Linked DNA regions of Homo sapiens: region 2 is linked to region 1. Evidence: fine-mapped expression QTL. Tissue or cell type: whole blood. Region 1 holds a variant in brackets; the other region holds the start of a gene. All regions are shown on one strand. Distances are between the middles of the regions.

Evidence for each region. PIP is the estimated chance that this variant, and not a neighbour inherited with it, causes the effect.
Region 2: it holds the start of CD163, and the variant in region 1 is fine-mapped to the expression of CD163 in whole blood (TOPMed, PIP 0.94).

The regions. Positions count from the first base shown.
Region 1 is chr12:7,538,485-7,546,592 of GRCh38, reverse strand. No RefSeq gene overlaps it. Among named protein-coding and RNA genes, the nearest start is that of CD163, 39 kb to the right of the region's middle. The variant A/G (reference allele first, on the strand shown) is at 3,537.
Region 2 is chr12:7,499,063-7,507,170 of GRCh38, reverse strand. It overlaps CD163 (CD163 molecule), which reads left to right and starts at 3,394. Exons shown (of 17, transcript NM_203416.4): 1 at 3,394-3,526; 2 at 4,607-4,693; 3 at 5,709-6,032; 4 at 7,983-8,108. The coding sequence starts at 3,481.

The sequences.
Region 1 (8,108 bases):
TCTGTCTTTGTTCTCATTGGTTTCAAAGAACATCTTTATTTCTGCCTTCATTTTGTTATTTACCCAGTATTCATTCAGGAGCAGGTTGTTCAGTTTCCATGTAGTTGTGCAGTTTTGAGTGAGTTTCTTAATCCTGAGTTCTAATCTGATTGCAGTGTGGTCTGAGAGACAGTTTGTTGTGATTTCTTTTCTTTTACATTTGCTGAGGAGTGTTTTACTACTAATTATTCGGTCAATTTTAGAATAAGTGTGATGTGGTGCTGAGAAGAATGTATATTCTATTGATTTGTGGTGGAGAGTTCTGTAGATGTCTACTAGGTCTGCTTGGTGCAGAGCTGAGTTCAAGTCCTGGATATCTTTTTTAACCTTCTGTGTCGTTGATCTGTCTACTATTCATAGTGGGGTGGTAAAGTCTCCCATTATTATTGTGTGGGAGTCTAAGTCTCTTTGTATGTCTCTAAGGACTTGCTGTATGAATCTGGGTGCTCCTGTATTGGGTGCATATATATTTAGGATAGTTAGCTCTTCTTGTTGAATTGATCCCTTTACCATTATCTAGTGGCCTTCTTTGTCTTGTTTGATCTTTGTTGGTTTAAAGTCTGTTTTATCAGAGACGAGGATTGCAACCCTTTTTTTTTTTTTTTTTTTTCATTTTCTTGGTGGATCTTCCTCCATCCCTTTATTTTGAGTCTATGTGCATCTCTGCATGTGAGATGGGTCTCCTGAATACAGCACACAGATGGGTTTTGACTCTTTATCTAATTTGGCAGTCTGTGTTTTTTAATTGGGGCATTTAGTCCATTTACATTTAAGGTTAATATTGTTATATTTGGATTTGATCCTATCGTTATGATGTTAGCTGGTTATTTTACCTGTTAATTGATGCAGTTTCTTCATAGCATCAGTGGTCTTTACCATTTGGCATGTTTTTGCAGTGGCTGGTACTGGTTGTTCCTTTCCATGTTTAGTCCTTCCTTCAGGAGCTCTTGTAAAGCAGGCCTGGTGGTGACAAAATCTCACAGCATTTGTTTGTCTGTAAAGGATTTTATTTCACCTTCACTTATGAAGCTTAGTTTGGCTGGATATGATATTCTGGGTTGAAAATTCTTTTCTTTAAGAATGTTGAATATTGGCCCCCACTCTCTTCTGGCTTGTAGGGTTTGTTTAGAGAGATCCACTGTTAGTCTGATGGGCTTCCCTTTGTGGGTAACCCGACCTTTCTCCCTGGCTGCCCTTACCATTTTTTCCTTTGTTTCAACCTTGGTGAATCTAATAATTATGTGTCTTGGGTTGCTCTTCTCAAGGAATGTCTCTGTGGTGTTCTCTTTATTTCCTGAATTTGAATTTTGGCCTGTCTTTCTAGGTTGGGGAAGTTCTCTTGGATAATATCCTGAAGAGTTGGATATTAACTAACTTGGTTCCATTCTCACCATCACTTTCAGGTGCACCAGTCAAACGTGTATTTGGTCTTTTCACGTAGTCTCATATTTCTTGGAGGCTTTTTTCATTTGTTTTTACTCTTTTTTCTCTAATCTTGTCTTCTCACTTTATTTTATTAATTTGATCTTCAATCACTGATATCCTTTCTTTCACTTCATCAAATCAGCTACTGAAGCTTGTGCATGCATCATGAAGTTCTCATGCCATGGTTTTCAGCTCCATCAGGTCATTTAAGGTTTTCTCTACACTGTTTATTCTAGTTAGCCATTTGTCTAACCTTTTTTCAAGGTTTTTGGCTTTTTTGCGATGGGTTAGAATATGCTCCTTTAGCTCAGAGAAGTTCGTTATTACCGGCCTTCTGAAGCCTACTTTTGTCAACTCATCAAACTCATTCTCTGTCCAGTTTTGTTCCTTTGCTGGCGAGGAGCTGCGATACTTTGGAGGAGAAGAGGCACTCTATTTTTTTGAAGTTTCAGCTCCTCTTCCCTGGTTTCTCCTCATCTTTGTGGTTTTATCTACTTTTGGTCTTTGATGTTGATGACCTACAGATGGGTCTTTGGTGTAGATGTCTTTTTTGTTGATGTTGATGCTATTCCTTTCTGTTTGTTAGTTTTCCTTCTAACAGTCAGGTCCCTCAGCTTCAGGACTGTTAGAGTTTGCTGGAGGTCCACTCCAGACCCTGTTTCCTGAGTATCACCAGCAGAGGCTGCAGAACAGCAAATATTGCTGCCCGATCCTTCCTCTGGAAGCTTCATCCCAGAGGGGTACCTGTCTGTTTGGGGTGTCTGTTGGCCCCTATTGGGAGGTGTTTGCTAGTCAGGCTACACGGGGGTCAGGGACCCACTTAAGGAGGCAGTCTGTCCATTCTTGGAGCTAGAACGCTGTGCTGAGAGAACCACTGGTCTCTTTAGAGCTTTCAGATGGGGACGGTTAAGTCTGCAGAAGCTGCTGCCTTTTGTTCTACTATGCCCTGCCTGCAGAGGTGGAATCTATAGAGGCAGTAGGCCTTGTTGAGCTGAGGTGGGTTCCACCCAGTTCGTGCTTCCTGGCCTCTTTGTTTACACTGTGACCTACTCAAGCCTCAGCAATGGCAGGCACCCTTCCCCACATCAAGCTGCTGCATCGCAGGTGAATCTCAGGCTGCTGTGCTAGCAGTGAGCAAGGGTCCATGGGTGTGGCACCCATTGAGCAAAGCACAGGAGGGTATCTCCTGGTCTGCTGGTTGCTAAGACTGTGGGAAAAGTGCAGTATTTCATCAGGAGTGTACTGTTTCTCCAGGTACAGTCTGTCACTGCTTCCCTTGGCTAGGAAAGGAAATCCCTCGACCCCTTGCAGTTCCCAGGTGAAGCGATGTCCTGCCCTGCTTCAGCTCGCCCTCCATGAGCTGCACCCACTGTCCAACCAGTCCCAGTGAGATGAACCAGGTACCTCAGTTGGAAATGCAGAAATCACCCGTCTTTTGCGTCGATCTCACTGGGAGCTGCAGACCGGAGCTGTTCCTATTCGGCCATCTTGGAAGTGCTCTCCAAGATGTTTTCTTGAGATGCAAATAATTTGAATGCCCTTTCAAACACTGTGACAGAACAGCAAGGCCCACACTTTTCCTCCTTCCACTTTATCAGTTCAACTTAGCAGGGCCAGAATTCAAACTCATGTTCATAGAGATTTCATTTAATTTTCAGCAAAGAGCATTGTGTAAATCAATACATTCTTTCTTGTTTTTCACTGCCCCTTTGGAACTATATACAGGTGTGCTATGATTATGGAGGACTGAAATCAGCACACGATGTAGGAACTCTTGTTGGTCTGCACTGCTGTTTTTCTCTGTTTGCTTTTCTGATGGTAGATTATGTTAATGTTATCTTTCTTGTCTTTAATTTCTGAGTTGACACAAAGTAAACAATCTGACATTCCTTTAAGAAACAAACTATTCCTCTTTCTGAAAACACTGACATTTGACTTTCATTTTAGGCAAATTTTTACTGTCTCTGCTTTTGGGAACTGCAGTAAATGGTTAAGAGTACCAGAAGAACTTGTCATCTATAGCATTCCTGTTAGAACATTTCACAAGGACTAGAAATCTTTTTAGACAGTAG[A/G]GTGGAACAGAAAGAATGGGAAGTAGCTCTTTCTTGGCAGGGTTGCAGTATACTTTTTTTCTGGAATTAGTAAGAATGATGAACTGTTACACAATGATGGGGAAGTTGTGAGTGGGTGACCCAGAGAGACATGATAGCTAAATTTCACTGGGATCCTGTTTCTCATTCTGTTTTCCTCCTTTGGCTGTGATCACTGCTGGATAAAACAACATAGCTGAGCAGATAGAAAACACTTTAAATCACTCTCCCTATCCTCACCTGGCCTTCAGTTCTGTCATTAAGCTCACTCACAATCTGTACTACATCATTTATTCATATTTCACAAAAAATAAAAATAACTTCACTGAAACTCTTCTCACCAAGTTCATTATTGACCTGCACTCTACAAATCCAGAAGAATCTTTACAATCTTTATTTTGTCTGATGTGTTAATATGATTTGACACATGGACAATTGTCTTGTAGCAGGATGAGCCATGGACAAAACCCCTCAGACACCGAGATAGTGAAGGGAGTGGCTTTAATCAGCTGGGAGCATCGGCAGGCTAGCGTCTTAACATCTGAGCTCATCAGGTGCTCAATTTTTGTCCCTTTTAAGAGCTCACAACTCTAAGAGGGTCCACGTGAGAGGGTCTTGATCGATTGAGCAAGCCAGGGAGTACGTGACAGGGGCTGCAAGCACCGGTGGTTAGAGTGAAACAGAACAGAGCGGGAGGTTTCACAGTGTCCTTCCGTACAATGTCTGGAATCTATAGACAACAACAGTTGCTAGGTCAGGGGTCGAATTTTAACTACCAGGCTTAGGTCAGGCAGGCCCTGGCCTGATTTCAGGTCTGGTTCCTTGGTTTCTGGTCTGGTTCCCAGGCGCCAGGCTACCTGCCTTTAGTTTCACTTCTCTTTCCTTTTCTGAGTTTAAAACAATATAAAAAATATGAGAGGGTCTCTCTCTTCCCTCAGTTTCTGTTTTGAATATTTCTTTTTTTTGGCTATGGGGTCTCACCTCCTGCTGGATTTTCTTACATAGATCTGGCGACTCCTTCTATGTTTCTTTTGAAAAGAAAGATCCTGGTAGGTGATCTCTTTGACATCTTTGATTTTCAACTGCCATTGAAGACCAGCTGTTGTGATTTTCCTCGAGTTTTTGTTCCAGAAGAGGTTGCAGTGGGTGTTTACAGTGTGTCTTTCATGGGACACTTTTTTTTATCCTGGAAGACAACTCAATGCCTAAGTGTCTGCCCCTTCACCAGGTGTTCCTCTCACAGGAAACTTTATTAAGCTAGCAGATGTTCTTGCACTCTTCTCTGACCTGTGTCCAGTTTATTCCTACCAAGATAGCCACTCTCTAAGAGAGCCCTGCCTGGGAGGAGTGTTCAGTTCAGGTGTATTGGTCAGGTGAGAAACAGAGGAGCCAACATAGCAAAACACATGAAATAACAGAAGCACTGTATTAATTACAGATCCCAGAGAGAAGGGAGCAGCAAGAAAAATTCTGAGGTCAAGTGTTCACTGTTTGAACTCTCTCAAAAAACAAAACAAAACAAACAAACAAACCCTACAACTATGGAGCAAACATGTAAAGCTTTCTAAGTTTTGTGTCTGTCTCTACTTTTTTTCCTGCCTACTTTGAATCTGATAACTCTTCTATTGGTGTTGAGATAAAATGGATGGCTTATGGCGCTCCAGCCAAGACTTTTTAAAAAGTCTTAAAAAGCTTTCAACTGAATGGCTTTACAAATTACAACAGCTTCATTATAACCAACAACCTAAACACCTTTTGAAAATGTACATATTTAGTTAGGCTTGTCTGACCAATGTATGCTCAGGGTGATGGAACAATTAGTTGAATAATTAATATTCTGAAAAAAAAAGAACTAGACAAACGTTTATAAAAAGTTAAGCTCTCAGATTAAACAGATCAAAATCTTGAGCTCAGAGAAATAACGTAAACTGTATCTGCCACAAAAATTGCTCTGTCTGCCACACAGGGACCAACAGACAAAGCAAAACAAACAAACAAACATAACTTCTAAAGCGCTTCCCCATCTGCATTGACTAGTCAACCAAACAAAAAGTACCTCCTTGCATATGATTTGCAGGAATGCATCACTGCCTTTTGCTCTTTTTCTTTCTCCCCTTGAAAAGGTGTTTGTTTGTTTGTTTGTTTGTTTTGATTAGCTGGGGTGATAAGTCTCCCCTTCAACTTTTTTGTCAGCTCCCATAACTATTTTTCTCCAGTTCTAACTCTGCTATTATGGCCTGATGCTCATTTACCTAAGACAATCTGAGTAAAATTTCTTAAGAGATTTCTGGCTGACCATATCAGATTTTACCATGTAAACACAATATATGACATAATACATGTACACATGGATAAACACACCTAAACACACATACATTCACACAAATGTATTATAGCTTTTGTTTTAGAATTTTAGCCATGAGACAGTAAAACAAACTTACTGGTTTACAAAAGGCAGCTGGATTAAAAAACTGGTTATAGTGGCTCATGCATGTAGTCTCAGCTTCTGAGGAAGCTGAGATTAGCGTCTCCCTTGAGCCCAGTAGTTTGAGTCCAGTCTGGCCAACATAGTGAGATCCTTTCTCAAAAAAAAAAAAAAAAAAGCAGTTGGATCCAAATTATATTTTTGACAAAATGAGGCCTGTTCACATGGCTAAACATCACTTGTCCTAATTAAGTTAATGGGCCAAAATTGGGGGTAAAGCAGATTCCATAGCAGTTTGATTTTTAGCAGCCTACTTTTATGCTTTTTTTCAATTTTTAATAACTGTAGGGTTACATTTTTAATGTTTACATTTTAGCCGAACTGGCTGAATTGTGTAAGAAAGCCAATATCTCAAAGTTTTTCCCCAATTTGATTCCGTACTAGTGGTTTTTTTAATGTGTCTAAATTATTCCATGTATCCAGGATACTTCCCATACTGTCCTGAAAAACCATGTATTCCCCTGCTCAAGATAATAGTTTTCTTGTTTACATTCCTCTATAATATGTGGTACACTCATAGCTTTGGACATCATTATTCCCACATCTGATTAAAATCAAGTGCCTTCTTCATCAGACTCAACCTCAAGGATATCTAAATGGGCTTCCCATAAGGAGAAGCAATCACAGTGAAGGAGTTTTTGTTTTAGTTTAAAAATTTTTTTTTAATTTTTTTAACTTTTTTGGTACCCAGCCTAATAAACAAAAAAGAATTTACATTTTATCAAGATAATTTTCCAATGTCATCTTTATCAGTTTTTTAAATTAGGAAAGCAGAACTTTGAGAGGTTAAGGTTTTTAAAATCCATGTAACTTTCTTTAATGCTTTTGAAGTCTTTATTTTCACTATGGTTTAATAAATGACTGCTATTTCAAAGTGACCTATTATTCTGTTTTGATCAAGTGTTTTGAACCTTTTGATATCTTTGGCAGGCTTTCCAAGGACCAGAATTCTAAATGAAGTCTTTTTGAACTAAAATTAACTTTGAAATTTTCAATCTAAGCCCCTAGAGAGACTCAAAGAACACATCTCTCATCCTGCAGATTTTAAATGATTAGGCTTATTTGGTAAATGATATAAAAAGCATAGTCAAATGACAAGTGATACTAGATCTTCTTTTAGTTGTACTTATGGATAAATTATTGAGATGAATATTTCAAAAATTATATAAATTTATAAAAATCTAATATGTTAGTCATAATTTTGGTTGTTAGGTTAAATCTTCTTTTAAGTTATATTTTTATGGATGTTATTGGTCTAAGTATTCTAAAGATTAAGTGAAATCTATGAAAGTCTGGTGGACCTGTTATGAGCTCACAATCATGATTCTGGTTGTTATCTTAAAATGTTGTAAAGAAATGACAAGAAAACTAAATTTTCTTTTCAGCTGTGAACTTTCATCATATTTTAACCATAACTATTCTAAGTCTTTGTTATCCATAGTTATTATTTTTATTTTTCTCTATAATTATTTATAATTGGCTATAGTCCAAAATTGCTTTTCATAAAAAAGACTCTAACAAGTACTCTTAAACTCATAGTTCTAATAATTTTAAAATTAATAGACTAAATAAAAATTTCCGGAATTCTGATGAAGAAACTGATGGGCTCAGGAAATTGCTAATCAAGGTCAAGCAAACAAAATTTTAATTACATGAGATTTAATAATTGATGAAAATATTACTTTTATAACTTTTATTTAAAACATTATGAGAGGGAGAAAGCAAGGGAAGAGAACAGGAATCTCTGCCTAGTAATTTAGATAATTCTCACAGATCTTGTCCAAGACCATCAGTGTGACACATCTACAAGTTTGCAAGAACCACAGTATTACTGGGCTTGAGGTGCCCCCTAAAGCAAATACAGCTTAGATCACAACACCCAAGCCCTGTGGAATATCTGGAAAGCTTTCTCAAGAAGGATGGGAACAAACAAGCCAAGACAGTGAAGACTACAGTAAATGCCTAACTCTTCCATGCCCACAAACCAAAGAATGTCTATGAGCATCAACACCATCTAGTAAAACAGGACCTCACCAAGTGAACTAAATAAGACACCAGGGACCAATCCT
Region 2 (8,108 bases), 39 kb after region 1:
TCATGCTAAAAACTCTCAATAAATTATTGATGGGACGTATCTCAAAATAATAAGAGCTATCTATGACAAACCCACAGCCAATATCGTACTGAATGGGCAAAAACTGGAAGCATTCCCTTTGAAAACTGGCACAAGACTGGGATGCCCTCTCTCACCACTCCTATTCAAGATAGTGTTAGAAGTTCTGGCCATGGCAATTAGGCAGGAGAAGAAAATAAAGGGTATTCAATTAGGAAAAGAGGAAGTCAAATTGTCCCTGTTTGCAGATGACATGATTGTATATTTAGAAAACCCCATCGTCTCAGCCCAAAATCTCCTTAAGCTGATAAGCAACTTCAGCAAAGTCTCAGGATACAAAATCAATGTACAAAAATCACAAGCATTCTTATACACCAATAACAGACAAACAGAGAGCCAAATCATGAGTGAACTCCCATTCACAATTGCTTCAAAGAGAATAAAATACCTAGGAATCCAACTTACAAGGGATGTGAAGGACCTCTTCAAGGAGAACTACAAACCACTGCTCAATGAAATAAAAGAGGATACCAACAAATGGAAGAACCTTCCATGCTCATGGGTAGGAAGAATCAATATCATGAAAATGGCCATACTGCCCAAGGTAATTTATAGATTCAATGCCATCCCCATCAAGCTACCAATGACTTTCTTCACAGAATTGGAAAAAACTACTTTAAAGTTCATATGGAACCAAAAAAGAGCCCACATCCCCAAGTCAATCCTAAGCCAAAAGAACAAAGCTGGAGGCATCACGCTACCTGACTTCAAACTATACTACAAGGCTACAGTAACCAAAACAGCATGGTACTGGTACCAAAACAGAGATATAGATCAATGGAACAGAACAGAGCCCTCAGAAATAATGCCGCATATCTACAACCATCTGATCTTTGACAAACCTGACAAAAACAAGCAATGGGGAAAGGATTCCCTATTTAATAAATGTTGCTGGGAAAACTGGCTAGCCATATGTAGAAAGCTGAAACTGGATCCCTTCCTTACACCTTATACAAAAATTAATTCAAGATGGATTAAAGACTTACATGTTAGACCTAAAACCATAAAAACCCTAGAAGAAAACCTAGGCAATACCATTCAGGACATAGGCATGGGCAAGGACTTCATATCTAAAACACCAAAAGCAATGGCAACAAAAGCCAAAATAGACAAATGGGATCTAATTAAACTAAAGAGCTTCTGCACAGCAAAAGAAACTACCATCAGAGTGAACAGGAAATCTACAAAATGGGAGAAAATTTTCGCAACCTACTCATCTGACAAAGGGTTAATATCCAGAATCTACAATGACCTCAAACAAATTTACAAGAAAAAAACAAACAACCCCATCAAAAATTGGCGAAGGATATGAACAGATACTTCTCAAAAGAAGACATTTATGCAGCCAAAAAACACATGAAAAAATGCTCATCATCACTGGCCATCAGAGAAATGCAAACCAAAACCACAACGAGATACCATCTCACACCAGTTAGAATGGTGATCATTAAAAAGTCAGGAAACAATAGGTGCTGGAGAGGATGTGGAGAAATAGGCATGCTTTTACACTGTTGGTGGGACTGTAAACTAATTCAACCATTGTGGAAGTCAGTGTGGCAATTCCTCAGGGATCTAGAACTAGAAATACCATTTGACCCAGCCATCCCATTTCTGGGTATATACCCAAAGGATTATAAATCATGCTGCTATAAAGACACATGCACACGTACGTTTATAGCGGCACTACTCGCAATAGCAAAGACTTGGAACCAACCCAAATGTCCATCAATGATAGACTGGATTAAGAAAATGTGGCACATATATACCATGGAATACTATGCAGCCATAAAAAATGATGAGTTCATGTCCTTTGTAGGGACATGGATGAAACTGGAAACCATCATTCTCAGCAAACCATCGCAAGGACAAAAAACCAAACACCACATGTTCTCACTCATAGGTGGGAATTGAACAATGAGAACACATGGACACAGGAAGGGGAACATCCCACTCCAGGGACGGTTGTGGGGTCAGGGGAGGGGGGAGGGATAACATTAGGAGATATACCTAATGCTAAATGACGAGTTAATGGGTGCAGCACACCAGCATTGCACATGTATACATACGTAACAAACCTGCATGTTGTGCACATGTATCCTAAAACTTAAAGTATAATAATAATTTAAAAAAAGGAAAAAAATATATATATAATTGACAACCCTCATAAGTACAGGCTATCATGAGTGCATATTTTCTGGGGTCTTTCAGCGTTAGAGTTATTTCTCCTAGTGAAGGGAGGTTTAACTGAGAAATAAAGTATACGTGAGTGAGAGTTATCTTAGAGAAAGGTACGGGTAGGGAGGCAGTAAACACAGAAGGAACAATATGTATGACATACCATGAGGCAGGGAGAGATTTGGCATGCCTGAGAAGTGGAAGAAAACTGGGGTGCCTTTGTTGACTGGGTTCTAGTGAATGTCTCTCTGGAAGGCTGGAGTTGCTCTTTAATTCCCCATTTCAGGCCCATCACTAACACCTGACAATATGTATGCCATGATGAACTATTAGTAGTTCTTTTGAGCTTATATGTTTTTATATACAAATATTCATTTGTATGTGCTATTTTTTATGCCTTAAACTCCTTTATCATTTGTCCCTTTGGCAATGTTTTTCTCATCTTTTAGGACACAATTTAAGCCTGTCCTCAGAGAAAATAGTTTTCTGACTGTTCATTCCTTTCTCTCAATAGATAGGACTACTTTGTCCATTATTTTTAACACTGCACTTTAGCTTTATGTTCATTGTTGTTATCATATGTGTTTCTCTTACTTGAATCTGAGTTATATAGAGCTAAAATCATGTGTTGCTAATTTTTGTTTCACCATTTGTAATATCAGTAATAGTCATGGCTAATTCTCTTGGTGTACTTCATCCCATTAGAAAAGAAATGACAAATGCTGTGTCTCAACAACTTACACAAAATTACTCATTAGACACATTTGATTATGGAAATAAAATTAAAAGTGCATATGATAAAATGTTATTTAATTATGTTTTGCCTGTTTTGCTTTAGTTTTTTACATAATTTTTCTACATGACAATTAGTAATTTTTTGTGTCTTATATATTTGTCCAAAATGAAGTTCAAAAATGTAAAATATTTAATTCAGCAACAGCAGCATATGAGTTAGTATTTCCTCTAATTTTTCGAAATCTGTGGGAAGTGTTTCCCAATTTCCTTTGGTTGTTTCATGTGCTATATTGAAGAAAACATGAGTATGAAATGGAACCTCAGCTCTTTCAATGACTTCCCTTTTTGAGTTGACTCCGCCTCCATATGTAGCCTTTTCATTTTCATGAAAGTGAAGTGATTTTTAGAATTCTTAGTTGTTTTCTTTAGAAGAACATTTCTAGGGAATAATACAAGAAGATTTAGGAATCATTGAAGTTATAAATCTTTGGAATGAGCAAACTCAGAATGGTGCTACTTGAAGACTCTGGATCTGCTGGTAAAAGCTTCTCATTTATTCTACATTTCCCCTTTAATGGGGTATGTAATTATTATGACAGTCAATGGATGTGATTTAAAAGTGATTGGCATCAGGAGAGTAAGGAGTGGAAAAAGGACATAGGCTTATATGGCAGCACCTTTGATCTGCCATAGATTCAAAATTGAAGATGTGATATGGGAATCAGAGTCGGCATTAATTTTGTAAAACTGCTGAGGTGAAATTAAGTCAGGAACTAAAGTTAACTGAAATGTACTGAGTATGAAAAAATAGTTGTTAGAAAAGATAGAATATGCAGAAAGGAATATTGATAGAGAGTTAATTACATAAAGAAAGTTATCTACTCTGATAAGTGAGTTATCTATTTTAAGACTTATTTGGACATGTTAAAATCATTTAGCATTTTTAGTTTTAAATTAGTGTTGGGTTAGAGTAACGAGAAGATATGAGAGTAATAACAGCATTAAAGAGTGTATTATGTGATAAGGATACAGGTAGAGATGACAAGATTTAATATTTGAGTTTTTCAGATATGGATATCATCACTTAGGTATTGTTCTGCTAGCTACTATTTGGCAAGCATCAAGCCAGGTACTGGTGAAATTATGGTGAACATGATAGATATAATTCGTTTACTCATGGAACTTATCCTCTATCAGTGCGGCTAGGTAGTCTTAAAGATGGGGGCATCCATAATTGAATATCAAGGTGGTTAGGGAATAGAGAAATCTCAGGATACCTTCCCTGTGCCTGCTGGGAGAATTGTCCACTACTAAGTTTCATTGATGTTGTTTCCATTTTCCAGGTTTTAAGGGTTGACCTTGCAATTCTCGTTTCCACCACCAACCTTCTGCTAATCCGTCACCTCTAGGTTGCCTATAAACATGAACATTTTCAAAACCATTTCACTGAAACTATATGAGCCTGGGTATGAATGTTTTCTGCCTGCCTTGCAATTTAGAATGAAGAGTTTTCTGTCTTGGTTTGAGCTTCTTTGTTAATTAACCTCTGAAACCATCTATCTTCTCCAAAGTCTCTTTTTGGGAAGATGCTACTTTTGCCCTCTTTTCTTTTTCACAGACTTCAGAAGACATTTTGTCAACTTGAGTCCCTTCACCATTACTGTGGTCTTACTTCTCAGTGCCTGTTTTGTCACCAGTTCTCTTGGTGAGTACTTTGTCAAATTTACTTACAGCCTTAGCCCACTCTGACAAGAACAGTTAAAAGGCAAACAATTTTTCTGAAGGCCAAGTAGCATCTAAAAACTAGGTGACATGCTCCATGTATTCAAAGGATCAGATATTATTAAAAGCACACAATAAAAATCTAACCAAAATATTAGCATGGTTCCTCACCAAATGAAATAAACTCACAGGAGAGAAATGAATTTTACTTAAAGATTAGAAATAATGTTGAACTGAAAAATAGGAAAGAATACAAAGGAGGAGAAACTTCAGAATCATTAAAACAAAAGTGAATTTGGGAAACACATTAGTAAATTCAAATGCCAAAATTTATCTAAAAATGTATTGAGAGATGCCAGGTTGGTGGGACCAGATTCCTACATAAAGCTAAAATAATGCCAAGGAGGCAACTGAGATCATCTATCATCTGGGGATGGGAAGAGAGTACAAAGAGGTTTATTTTATGGTAGAAAATAGCAGAAAATATCTCCATCTTAATTTTAGATAAGTTTCAGTCTAGCGTTTTTAAGATTTATGCTATTTTACATATACGTATGAAATAAGAGTTAAATTTCTTACAACTAGTCTTTTCATCTTCATAAATTCTCTATCAGCCTTCTTTCTATCGACCTTAGGATTTTGGAGAAATGTAAAAAGTTCATCCCCATAACGTTTTGTAGCATCTTATTTAACTCGAAAATGCTTCACAGGAATTATATAAATTGCCACTATTAAGGCTATCCAGCCATAAAATAAAGCTATTAAACACTATTGTGTTACTTACCTTTACTGGTCATATAGCACTGCTTAATTTGAAACCAGTGATACTGATACTTATATTTGAATGACTGTGAAATAACATTCTTCTGTTTTACCATGGATAGGACTAGGATGGTTCTCAAATCTGAGTTTGAAGGATAAATAAGTAATGTAAAAAAATAATTTTCTACTTGCTCTTTGCGACCTTGGCCAATTACTGTCTTAATCCATTGTTGCAGGAGGAACAGACAAGGAGCTGAGGCTAGTGGATGGTGAAAACAAGTGTAGCGGGAGAGTGGAAGTGAAAGTCCAGGAGGAGTGGGGAACGGTGTGTAATAATGGCTGGAGCATGGAAGCGGTCTCTGTGATTTGTAACCAGCTGGGATGTCCAACTGCTATCAAAGCCCCTGGATGGGCTAATTCCAGTGCAGGTTCTGGACGCATTTGGATGGATCATGTTTCTTGTCGTGGGAATGAGTCAGCTCTTTGGGATTGCAAACATGATGGATGGGGAAAGCATAGTAACTGTACTCACCAACAAGATGCTGGAGTGACCTGCTCAGGTAAGACTTGCATTAGTCAAAGCCTCAACACAAAATCCTTGGTGGGAAAAAAATATGTAGATGGGTTAAAACCTAGAATAAGCCACTTTCCTGTAAGCAATCTAGTTCATGTATAAAAGTACTCCATCCATTGCTAGAAAACCACAAAACACGAGGTCATTTTTTTTTAATAAAAAAAATTCTGAACACTGTGATTAATGAGGAGGTGACTGGCTTCAATTTTATACATGATCTTAGCCAAAAAGCCAAGAAGTGGTGGTTTAAATTTGATATTCAGTAAGCTTACTGTAACCTACTATTCCTATATCATAAAAATATCATGACATCTAAGTTATTTCCTTGTTCTTTCCCAGTGACTTGTTTTGATATGTTGACCCACAAATTATTACCATTTTGTCCATTAACTGATAATCAACTTAGTAAATCAAAAAACAACTATTTCTAGCATTAATACATCATTTCTTGTTGTAGGAAGGATTCTTTGAAAGTATAATTGCTTGACCAGTGTGCAATGCTAGTCATTTCATTTACATTGTGCTTTTAATTTACAAAACATCTCCATATGTTTTATTGCAATTGACCCCACAATAACTGAGAAAGTCATGTGTCAGGCCTTTCTGCTGACAAATCCCAAGGGCACATTTCTGATCCAACTCAGATTCCTGGGATCCCCATTTCTTTTTGTTTGTTTCATTCCTTTTTTTTTTTTTTTTTTTTGGGACGAATTGTCGCTCTTGTCCCCCAGGCTGGAGTGCGATGGCGCTATCTCGGCTCACTGCAACCTCCACCTCCCGGGTTCAAGCAATTCTCCTGCCTCAGTCTCCCGAGTAGCTGGGATTATAGGCACCTGCCACCACACCTGGCTGATTTTTGTATTTTTAGTAGAGACAGGGTTTCACCATATTGGCCAGGCTGGTCTCGAACTCCTGAGCTCAGGTGATCCACCTGCCTCGGCCTCCCAAAATCCTGGGATTACAGGTGTGAGCCACCGTGACTGGCCTGTTTCATTAATTTTTATACAATCCTCTCACCTCCCAGCCTCTCTCTCTCCCATAGGACTGACTATAGAAAGGACTTATCTCTGTCCAGGCATCATGATGTGATAAGAGAAACACACAGTAGCATCTAGAAAAATGCTGAAATAAATTTTCACATAGCTAATATCCTGTGATTTTGTGCAAGTTGTCAAATCTCTCTAAACTTCAGTTTCTGAGGATTCAATGATATAATACATGTAAAACTACTGGTACACTGTTTGGTATGTAACAGGTGCTGAAGATCCTCATGGCTCAGTTCTCTTGGTGACTCAGTTCTCTTTCTTCTTTCTCCGCTTCCTCTTCCTCTTCCTTCTCCTCCTTCTCCTCCTTCTTTCCTCTTATTTTTAACCACTATGGGAGGTGTGAAATGGGGAATAACAAAAGTAACATCTACTGCAAAGTTTAAAATTATCATAAATTTTAGCAGGCTCTTATCATAATTATTGCTGTGTATAGAACTGGCTGTTTAGCTAAAACAGTGTAGTACTTTTAGCTCTTTTTTTCTGTTGTTTTATAACTACCAGTGGAGTTAATCAATTTGCTTTTTGAAATTTATACACTTAAAGCTTTAACCTGAGTCAAATTTAAATAACTTGAGTCGAATTTATCTATTTCTGTACAAAAAAGAGTATTTACATCTGTCCTAGTAATAGATGGAAACAAAACAAAACAGAAAGTTTAAAAACTTTAACCTGTAAACATTTTCCTTTGTAAGTAGATATAGATAAAAATCCTAATTGCTTCCTAGATTTTAACATATTAAAATTCTCTACCGTGTGGAGCTGGGCAATGTCCAAAATCAGGCACCATTTTAAGGACAACATAAAATCCCAAGTGTCCAGAGGAAACTTCTTTTCTAAAATCACTTCTAAATGAATGTAACTTCTGAACTCTGGTCTTTTCTCTGCTCCAGATGGATCCAATTTGGAAATGAGGCTGACGCGTGGAGGGAATATGTGTTCTGGAAGAATAGAGATCAAATTCCAAGGACGGTGGGGAACAGTGTGTGATGATAACTTCAACATAGATCATGCATCTG